Homo sapiens: one gene and its partner. The protein of the gene in region 1 purifies or fractionates together with the protein of each later gene. This does not show direct contact. Each region holds a gene or a part of one and is shown in the gene's direction. Other genes may lie near its edges.

Region 1 (5,498 bases):
AATAATCTGCAAATGTGTTTGACTTCTTGAGATGAAAGGCAGCATTTTCAAATAAATTATAAAGAGACTTTGGAAGATATTGAGATGTGTAAATTCAAGAAAAATGTAGGATTCCTTGGAAATAACACATTAGTACTGATAAAAGATACTGTATATGCTGTAGTTCTGATGATTGTGAAACAAGTGCTATTATATAATGTGTGTTACTAGCATTTCCTGATTTTGCATTCTAAATTAAATTTAAAAGTAGAGAAATGGACATTGTATAAAATATCCACAACCAATTTAATATGCGGCCATGCTTGGCCGGGCACCGTGGCTCACGCCTGTAATCCCAGCACTTTGGGAGGCCCAGGCGGGTGGATCACGAGGTCAGGAGTTCAAGACCAGCCTGGCCAACATGGTGAAACCCCGTCTCTACTAAACATACAAAAAATTAGCCGGGTGCGGTGGCAGGCGCCTGTAATCCCAGCTACTCAGGAGGCTGAGGCAGGAGAATCGCTTGAACTCGGAGGGCGGAGGTTACAGTGAGTGGAGATCGCGCCACTACACTCCAGCCTGGGTGACAGAGTGAGAGTCTGTCTCAAAAAAAAAAAAAAAAGTGTCCATGCTTTTAATATTATAGTATTGTAATATTTAACTTCTCAAGAACTTAATTTATAGAGATTTAATACAACATTAGTTGTATGGTGTGTTTTAAGAGCACTAGATAGATAGGTCAGGCCCATCCAAAGAATTAACTATATCTTTTTGTTGTTAATCTGGATTTACAACACTTGATTATCCAGGAATGGATTAACTGATGACCAGGTTCTGACCTCACTCACTGCCCAATTGCCTTCTAAACCACTGATAATGGAGCTTAAGCTTTGAGGCAGGAGATGATGGCAGTTGGAGAAAGAAGAAATTAAGTTGCTGTATATGTCTTGTGGGTATCTCAAATTGCTTTTAAAAGTCAAATATAAAAATTGTAGGGCTAAATATAATTTTTGTGTAATCAATTGTATTGGTGCTCTCCATTCTGATATAGATAATAGCAGAGTTAAGTGCTTGTTTATTTAAATAACTTTCCAAATATATTTTACCTGGCTAGTTTATGTTTGTATTTTTAATAATAGATTTTTAGAATATAATTCACATATCATGAAGTTCACTATTTTGAAGTATCCAGTGCATTGGGTTCTAGTATATTCACGGAGTTGTGCAGTCATCACCACTAATTTCTGAACATTTTCATCACCCAAAAAGAAATCCCCTACCCATTAGCAGTCACTTCCCAGTGTTCCCCCACTCCGACAGCCTCTGACAACCTTAGACTAATGTACTTTTTATTTCTATGAATTTACCTACTCTGGAAAATTCATATAAATGGAATTGTAATACAATATGTGGCCTTTTGTGACTGGCTTCTTTGACTTGGCATAATGTTTTCAAGGTTTGTTTACATTGTGTCATGTATCACTACTTCATCCCTTTTTATTGTCTAATAATAGTCCATTGTATGGATATACCATATTTTTTTCATCCCTTCATCAGTTGATGGACATTTGGGTTGCTTCTCCTTTTTGACCGTTATGAGTAATGTTGATAAAAACATCTGGATACAACTTTTGGTTTAGATACATGTATTCATTTTTCTTAGGTGTGTGGTAGAATTCCTCGGTCATATGCTAACTATATTTAACCTTTTGAGAAACTGCCAGACTGTTTTCCAAAGTGGCTGTATGATTTTACATTCCCACCAGCAGTATATGAGCGTTTCATTTTCTCTAAATCCTCACCAACACTTAATATTATTGTTTTGATTATAGCTGTCCTAGTGGATGTGAAGTGGTATCTTATTGTGGTTTTGATTTGCATTTCCCTGATGACTAATGATGTTCGTCATCTTTTTATGTGTTTACTGGCCATTTGATAATCTTCTTTGGAAAAACACCTTTTCAGATTCTTTACCCATTTGTGTGTCTTTGGAGTAATATTCACATCTTTTGCCTATTTTTACTTGGGTTATTTATCATTTTATTATTAAGTTGTAAGTGTTCTTAATATATTCTAGATACAAGTCACTTATTGTATGTATGATTTGCAAATATTTTCCTTTTTCTTGGGTTGTCTTTTCACTTTCTTGATGGTGTCCTTGGAAATACAAGTTTTAAATTTTGATAAAGTCCAGTTTATTTTTTTATTTTGTCACTTTTGCCTTTGGTGTCTGCGTTCCAACACTAATTCTGTAGCATCAGCTGGGTGTCCCCCACTTCCGTTTAGTTCTGGCACTAGCTGCCCAGGGTTGGCATCAGATCCCACAAATTAAAGGACAAGGTCCCCACTAAGAATGCCATTAATTTGGACACCAGCTGTAAATGGGGTCCCCAGGCTACTCACACTTCTGCCCTGCGGACTACAAATTCAAGACTTCCCATAATCCCCTCAAGGCTGATAGTTCACTAGAATGACTCACATAACTCACTGAAAGTGCTCTACTTGCAATTACAGTTTTATTATAAGGGATACAACTCAGGAACAGCCAAACAAGAAGTAGACACATATGGCAAGGTCTGGGGCAAGGGAAGGATGCAGAACTTCCATGCCATCCTTGTGAAATGTGGGATACAACTCAGGAACAGCCAAACAGGAAGTAGACACATATGGCAAGGTCTGGGGCAAGGGAAGGATGCAGAACTTCCATGCCCATCCTTGTGAAATGTGGGCACATCACCTTCCCAGCACATCAGTTTTTGTTCACCAAGGATGCTCCACTGAGTATCGATGAAGAAAGTTTTTATGAGGTTTCATCACATGGGCATGATTGATTAAATCATTAGCTACATGGCTGAACTTGATCTCAAGTCCTCCTCCTTTCATGGAAGGTTGGCCTGACCAGTTTATTCCTCTAAACATATAGTTGGTCTTTCTAGTGATTAGCCCCCATCCTGAAGCTACCTAGGGGCCCATGTTGCCTCATTAATGTAACAAAGACACTCCTATTTCTCAGGAAATACCACGGGTTTTTGAAACTTTCTGCTGGGTATTATGTCCAAAGACCAGGTACTCTCTCTTATAAGATGCCACAGTATCACATCACTTTGCCGAATTTTGAGTTTATGTGTGTATCACACTCAGTGACAAGAAGGAGAGTAACTTGGGACATGTTATTCTGTTTTCTGTCTTTTAAAATATGAATATGACCCTGGTAAATTTATATAATCAAGTAGGAAGGTGCCCTGGCTGCTAATAATGTTATCTGTTCCACTGTTTTATGTTGCACTCTGGAAAGTACAGTCACAGAAGCATAGGAAAACCTGAGCAGTTTCTGCTGCAGAAATACTGAAAGGGTATGTCCTCAGGGTTGTCATTTATATCATAACATGCAAAAGGAAGAGTCCATGAATAAGTAACTTTATTTCTTCTAATAGGGATTATAAGGATTATACTTAGAGATTACCTCTTAGACATCCTTCATAGATTTAAAAGTTCATTTTGCTGCTTGCTCTAGAGAAGTACCTGAATACCTAATATTAAATATGTTAGAAAAACAGAAATTTTGTTCTTAGATGACATTTTTACTCAGTATTCATTACTTTTCTTTAGAACTTTATTTTTTCTTGATTATATTTTTCACTACCTGCATATAGTACATTTATCATTCTGATTACAGAATTTATCTTAAAGACTTGTATTATATTTTGCATTATAAATATTGAGGCTTTTATTCTCAAAATGTGTTATGGGAAAGAGAAACCAATTGTGCATAATTATTTGGCAAATGGTTCAGAAAGTCAACTTTAATGATATTTGGCTTTAAGTATGTATTGCTAATTACATAAAAGCAATACAAAAGAGGAGACAAAAATGATAAGATTTGGTTTCTACTTTCAAGGGAACCAATAATGTAGCTACATGTGGTCACAATGAATAATACAAGGAAAAGAATTTGAGGGGAGAGGGAATTTTGAGGTTTGGTTTGGGACCTTTTAAATCCCACCACTTGGGCCTTGGTGCAGGAAAGCAAGTTTAGTAGAATTATCTGATATTAGATGTCATTTCAGTGTTACTCATCTAACAAATAAAACTAATAAGCAGAAGTAGACAGGTTGAAGTGCAACCAGAGCCTGTTTTTATGAAAGCTGAGGGAGAGACTAGCAAAGTCTATGTAATGTAAAGATCAGAAAAACATAACATTGTCTACTGGAATTGGCAATTAAGGTATCAGTCTTTGAGAAGCATGTTAGTCTTCTTAAAGTGTTTTGGATCGAAAGGTAGAGATAAAAGCCAAATTTGAAAAGAGGATAATAATAAATAGGAGAACAGGCATCCACTGCAACAGGAGTTTCAACCTATGCTGTATTCAGTAACTATGAATTTGTCCCTAATGACTAATATGATCATTACATCTCTGATGCCACCTGAGACCTAGGCTTCCACTAACATAAGCAAATTTATACTAGCGTCTTATTTGGAATATTGACACTAATATTCCGAACACAATTCAGATCACTGTCCCCCTCAGTCACATTCAAAATGTGAGGCTCTTCATTCTCCCATGCACTTATCCCTACACCACTATGTGTTCCCCTCTCTGAGACCCAGTCTTTCATTCCTCCCCTCTCTACCAAACTTCTCCACATACCATTTGGCATTCTACATCTCCTGTCAGGGGGGAATGTCTTCAGTTTCCTTATCCCTCATTCCTTCAAATCTATCTTTACCTATACTCTTTACCCTTAAAAGATAAAGGAAATATCTCTTGCTGTCAGTAGGCCAGTCTCAACCTGGATGCTCTAAGCTCATTCTCATTTCTTTAAGAAATTCCTTCAGTTATCCCCCTTCTCTACTGTATCTTCAGCTCTCCAAATTGAATCTTTCAATGTTAGCATCTTCCCATTGAAAAAGGTAAAAAGATTTTTTCTCTAAGTCCCATCCTCTTTTACTTTCCTTCATAGTTTATAAGTATGTGTCTACAAAAGAGTAGTCTAGCTGTGAAGTTTCTTCCTCACTGCATATTCTCCTGATCTCACTGTAATCAAGCTACTTCTTATACCACTCTACTGCAGTTGCTCTCACTAGTCACTCCTACTTGCTAAACCCAGTGGTCATTTTCTAGCCTTTTATTTACTTTTCCTCTGACCATTTGAAATTACCAACCATTCACTCCTTGAAGTTCTCTTCCTTGTAGTCCATGATACTATTCTCTGTCGGTTTTCTTCAACTCTGTGCACCTCCTTTTCCGTCTCTCTTTAAAAGGCCTTTCTCTCATTAGCTTTTAATGGTTAATATTCACCAAGATTCTATCCTTAGCCTTCCTTGTAATATATAAACATGTTCAAGTAAGCATGATCTTCAGAACAAAACTTCTTTTATCTTGTGTTCCTCTTTAAGTTATGACCGTATCTGTCAACATGTCTTTATGGCTCTACAGGATGCTTAGACAGTTTCTTTTCTAGAATATAAAGACAGATCGAGATTTCAGAAACCTCTTCCTGGAGCGCCTTCCCTAAACT
Region 2 (4,499 bases), on another chromosome or scaffold:
AAGCAAAAGTTAAGGGCTATGAAATAAGGGCACCTTTAAGTTCTTTATTGCTGAGAAGGAGGAAAGCTGAGATGGGTGAGAGATGGGGAGGGCCACTTGCCTGAAGAGGCTGGTGAAAGGCTGTCAGGTTAGGTGAGCTCCACAGTTAGAATTAAAGCAACACTAAATGTATACATTGGTTGAGCTTAAAGTTTTTGCTGCCTAAAAGATAATTTTTCTGTTTTTGATTTTCCGATGTTTAGTGTAAAAATAATTAGAATGGAAATTTACTGAAATGAAGGTTAAACTACGTTTTGCACAGAGGCATACTGCTCCCTACTTCATTCCCCCTGCCCCATGCCACAAAAGTTGAAAATAGTGAGCCCTGTTAAACAAGATTTCTAAAATATATTGACTTCTTTTGGGAAATGGTCATATTTATGAATACGTTGTACTTTTAAAGTGTTTAATTTTTCTCTATATATTTGTACATCTGTTACCTGATTTGAAACCCCTCCCTAACATGGGTATTACATGAATTTTCATTTTAAAGATTAGGAATTGGGAGGTTAGAGATAACACACAAGCTGACTCAGAACCATGCTCTTTCCACTTCTCAAAACGTTTTATATGTGTGGGTATGTTTCCTTATAAGAATGTATGTGTCCAGGCGCAGTGGCTCATGCCTGTAATCCCAGCACTTTGGGAGGCTGAGGCGAGCAGATCATGAGGTCAGGAGATTGAGACCATCCTGGCCAACATGGTGAAACCCCATCTCTACTAAGCTGGGCATGGTGGCGCACGCCTATAGTCCCAGCTACTCAGGAGGCTGAGGCAGGAGAATTGCTTGAACCCGGGAGGCGGAGGTTACGGTGAGCCGAGATGGCACCACTGCACTCCAGCCTGGCGACAGAGCGAGACTCCGTCTCAAAAAAAAAAAAAAAAGGAATGTATACATAGATAGTTGTCTAAAGAGACTGATAGTAAAATGTTAGCCATGCTTATCTCAAGTGGTAGGATTTTGATTTTTTTTTTTTAAATATTTTAATCTGGGTTGTTTTTATTTTCTAACGTGTCATTTTTGTAATCAGAAAAAGCAAAAACTATACATTGAATCCAAAGAAGTCCGATGAAAGAGTATTTGAAGGAAAGTTCTGTGACCAAGTCATATTTTCTCTGCAGACACGTCAAGTTCTTGAGGAGCTGACTGAGTTGCCTGTGATGGTGGAACTAGCAAGTGACTTCCTGGACAGAAACACACCAGTCTTTCGAGATGATGTTTGCTTTTTCCTTAGTCAATCAGGTGTGTTAATTTTAAAGACTTAAAAGGAAGGAAAGTTATTCTTTCTAATAATTCTAGCATATCTTGGCAAAAGCTGATATTTAAAGATAAACTGGCATTGCAGATGACTTGACGAATACAGATTTATTTTAATGTTACATAATTCTTTATGAATTAGTAAAAATGAACACCTTTTGTGTTCAAAGAGCTGGATTTTCAATGACAGAGAAGGAAGAGAGATCCTGACAAGCCATATTACTTAAAGTTTTATAAATTTATTAAGTGGATGTTTTGTATTTTATTTAAAACAAGTAATATTGTTGAAAGTGTGGTCAATTTGTTTTTGCTCCTAAGAAACAGCATATGTTAAAACTGTTCTGTGTGTTATGGTTGGCCTACTTTTTACACAGGTGAGACAGCAGATACTTTGATGGGTCTTCGTTACTGTAAGGAGAGAGGAGCTTTAACTGTGGGGATCACAAACACAGTTGGCAGTTCCATATCACGGGAGACAGATTGTGGAGTTCATATTAATGCTGGTCCTGAGATTGGTGTGGCCAGTACAAAGGTAAATTCTTGACTCATTTCTCTGATGATTATTTAATCATAGTGTCAGTGAAGCAGACTAGTCTGTAGACTAGTCTGTATCTTATTTTTGTTAGCAGTTATAGAACTCACACATTTTATTTTTGTTAGCAGTTATAGAACTCACACATTTTACTAATCATTGTAATTATTGTAGGACTTTAGGGTCAGATAGATAAAAGACTTGTCATTCTCTCCCTCTTCCTGATAGAGTTTAAAAGGGACTTATGTATATAATGTAAGTCCATTTTGAAAAGGTCTCTGCTGGCTATCCTTGTCTATCGCTTACTGCCCTCCTGCTAGGCACAGTAGGATACATAACAAGTATATAACATCCCCTTCTTTTATGAAGTATAGTCTGGAATTTGAAAAGTAACAAATTAGAAACATCCACTTTAACCATTTTTGGAATTTTTATTTACCTATTTATGGTTTCTAATAAATAATGTAAAAATATACATACTACCTCTGAAAGTTTGTAAGGAGGAATACACCTTTGGTATAAAATTTGGCAACTGCCAGGCATGGTGGCTCACGCCTGTAATCCCAGCACTTTGGGAGGCTGAGGCGGGCGGATCATTTGAGCTCAGGAGTTCAAGACCAGCCTGGCCAACATGGTGAATCCCGTCTCTACTAAAAATACAAAAATTAGCCAGGTGTGGTAGCACGTGCCTGTAATCCCAGCATACCCGGGAGGCTGAGGCAAGAGAATCACTTGAACCTGGGAGGTGGAGGTTGCAGTGAAGCGAGATTGTGCCACTGCACTCCAGTCTGGGTGACAGAGCAAGAGTCCATCTAAAAAAAAAAAAAAAAAAAAAAATTTAAAATTTGGCAATTAAAAAAAATTTTTTAATGAGTATTGTATGACAATATCTTTCTCTTTAGATATTGCTCTGGGGAGGTTTAAAGGTACTGTCTTGTGTTTTGAAGGCCTGGTAAGACTACTTTGCTCTTTGGAATTGGAATATGCATAAATTTAGGTGGCTAATAAAAATAGGAAATCTTAGAAAGTTGTATAAATACAAGAGATGTTATCCCTCCACAAGTGTTTTTTTGGGGTTTTAGGTTTGTTTGGTTGTTATTTAGAGACAGGGTCTTGTTTTGTCACCCAGGCTGGGGCTGGAGTGCAGTGACAGGAATCATAGCTCCCTGCAGCCTCAGACTCATGGGCTCAAGTGATCTCTGCCTCAGCTTCCTGAGTGGCTGGGACTGCAGATGCACCAGGCTAGTTTTTTTTTTTTTTTTAAGATGGGGTCTCACTATGTTGTCCAATGTGTTACTTTTTATGATTTCACATTTTTGTTTTCTCAATATTTTTCTACTTAAGTTTGATATTTCTTGCTGATTATCTAATAAGATGTTGGGATATTGGTGGATTTGAGTTTAATTAAAGGATTGTGAAAGACAATGTTAATGTGTACATAACTGCATTTGAATTCTTTTCCCTCAAAGATTCTCATAGAGAATTTTTTGTAGAAAGTTTGTGATTCTTATATAAAAATTCTTCTTTTCTTTTTCTTTTTCTTTTTTTTTTTTTTTTTGGAGACAGACTCTCACTCTGTTGGCCAGGCTGGAGTGCAGTGGCGTGATCTCAGCTCACTGCAACCCCCGCCTCCTGGGTTCAAGCGATTCTCCTGCCTCAGCCTCCCAGGTAGCTGGGATTACAGGCACCTGCCACCACGCCTGGCTAATTTTTGTATTTTTGATAGCAATGGGGTTTCACCATGTTGGCCAGGCTTGTCTTGAACTCCTGACCTCAAGTGATCTGCCTGCCTCAACCTCCCAAAGTGCTGGAATTACAGGCATGAGCCACACTGTACCTGGCCCCCCACCTTTTTTTTTTTTTTTGGAGACAGGGTCTCTCCTCTTTATCATCCAGAGTACATAGAGTGCAGTGGTGCTCATGGCTTACTGCAGCCTGGACCTTCCCAGGCTCAGGTGATCCTCCCACCTTAGCCTCCTGAGTAGCTGGGACTACAGGTACAGGCCACTACCCATGCCTGGCTAATTTTTGTATTTTTTTGTAGAGACGGAGTTTTACCATGTTGCCTAGGCCAGTCTCGAACTCTTGGGCTCAAACGATCTGCCTGCTTTGGCCTCCCAAAGTGCTGGGGTTACAGGCATAAAAACTCTTGAGTGAGATTTTTATTTCTTGGGTATTTCGATATTGCTAACACTATAATTTACAGAGTGCTGAAACTTGAATTTTCTCCATATGGTAATTAAAACGTGTTACATGTTTGTGCTTGGGTTTCCATCCTGTGGCTGAATAAATGACCAGCCACCTTTAGTAGCACTTAAGGATTTGATTGGGGGATTGGAATCCCAGAGGCTCTTTATTTATAACAGATTGTGAAACAAGGGCTACAACGTGGTGTATGTGGGATATGGGATTGTTTGGATGGATGCCATTGACTTAATCTTTTCATAAAATGTTTCTGGAATTGTGAGCTGCCAAGGGAAATATATATTTTACATTTCTCATTCCTTTGTTTATGAGAACTTTAATTTGCCTCAACATTTTATGATGATGATTTTCAAATATACAGCAGAGTTTTAAAAATTTTACATACAGGCTGGGTGCAGTGGCTCACAACTGTTATCCTGGCACTTTGGGAGGCTGAATTGGGAGGATCACTTGAGGCTAAGAGTT

What was found.
Region 2: the proteins of RO60 (region 1) and GFPT1 fractionate together in Homo sapiens (co-fractionation; one large-scale study listed by BioGRID). This does not show direct contact.

The regions. Positions count from the first base shown.
Region 1 is NC_000001.11:193,061,399-193,066,896, forward strand, and holds part of RO60 (RNA-binding protein RO60), read left to right. Parts: exon of another isoform or gene 1-928; intron 929-5,498. UniProt on the Homo sapiens protein: RNA-binding protein that binds to misfolded non-coding RNAs, pre-5S rRNA, and several small cytoplasmic RNA molecules known as Y RNAs.
Region 2 is NC_000002.12:69,335,228-69,339,726, reverse strand, and holds part of GFPT1 (glutamine--fructose-6-phosphate aminotransferase [isomerizing] 1), read left to right. Parts: intron 1-1,161; coding exon 1,162-1,282; intron 1,283-1,671; coding exon 1,672-1,829; intron 1,830-4,499.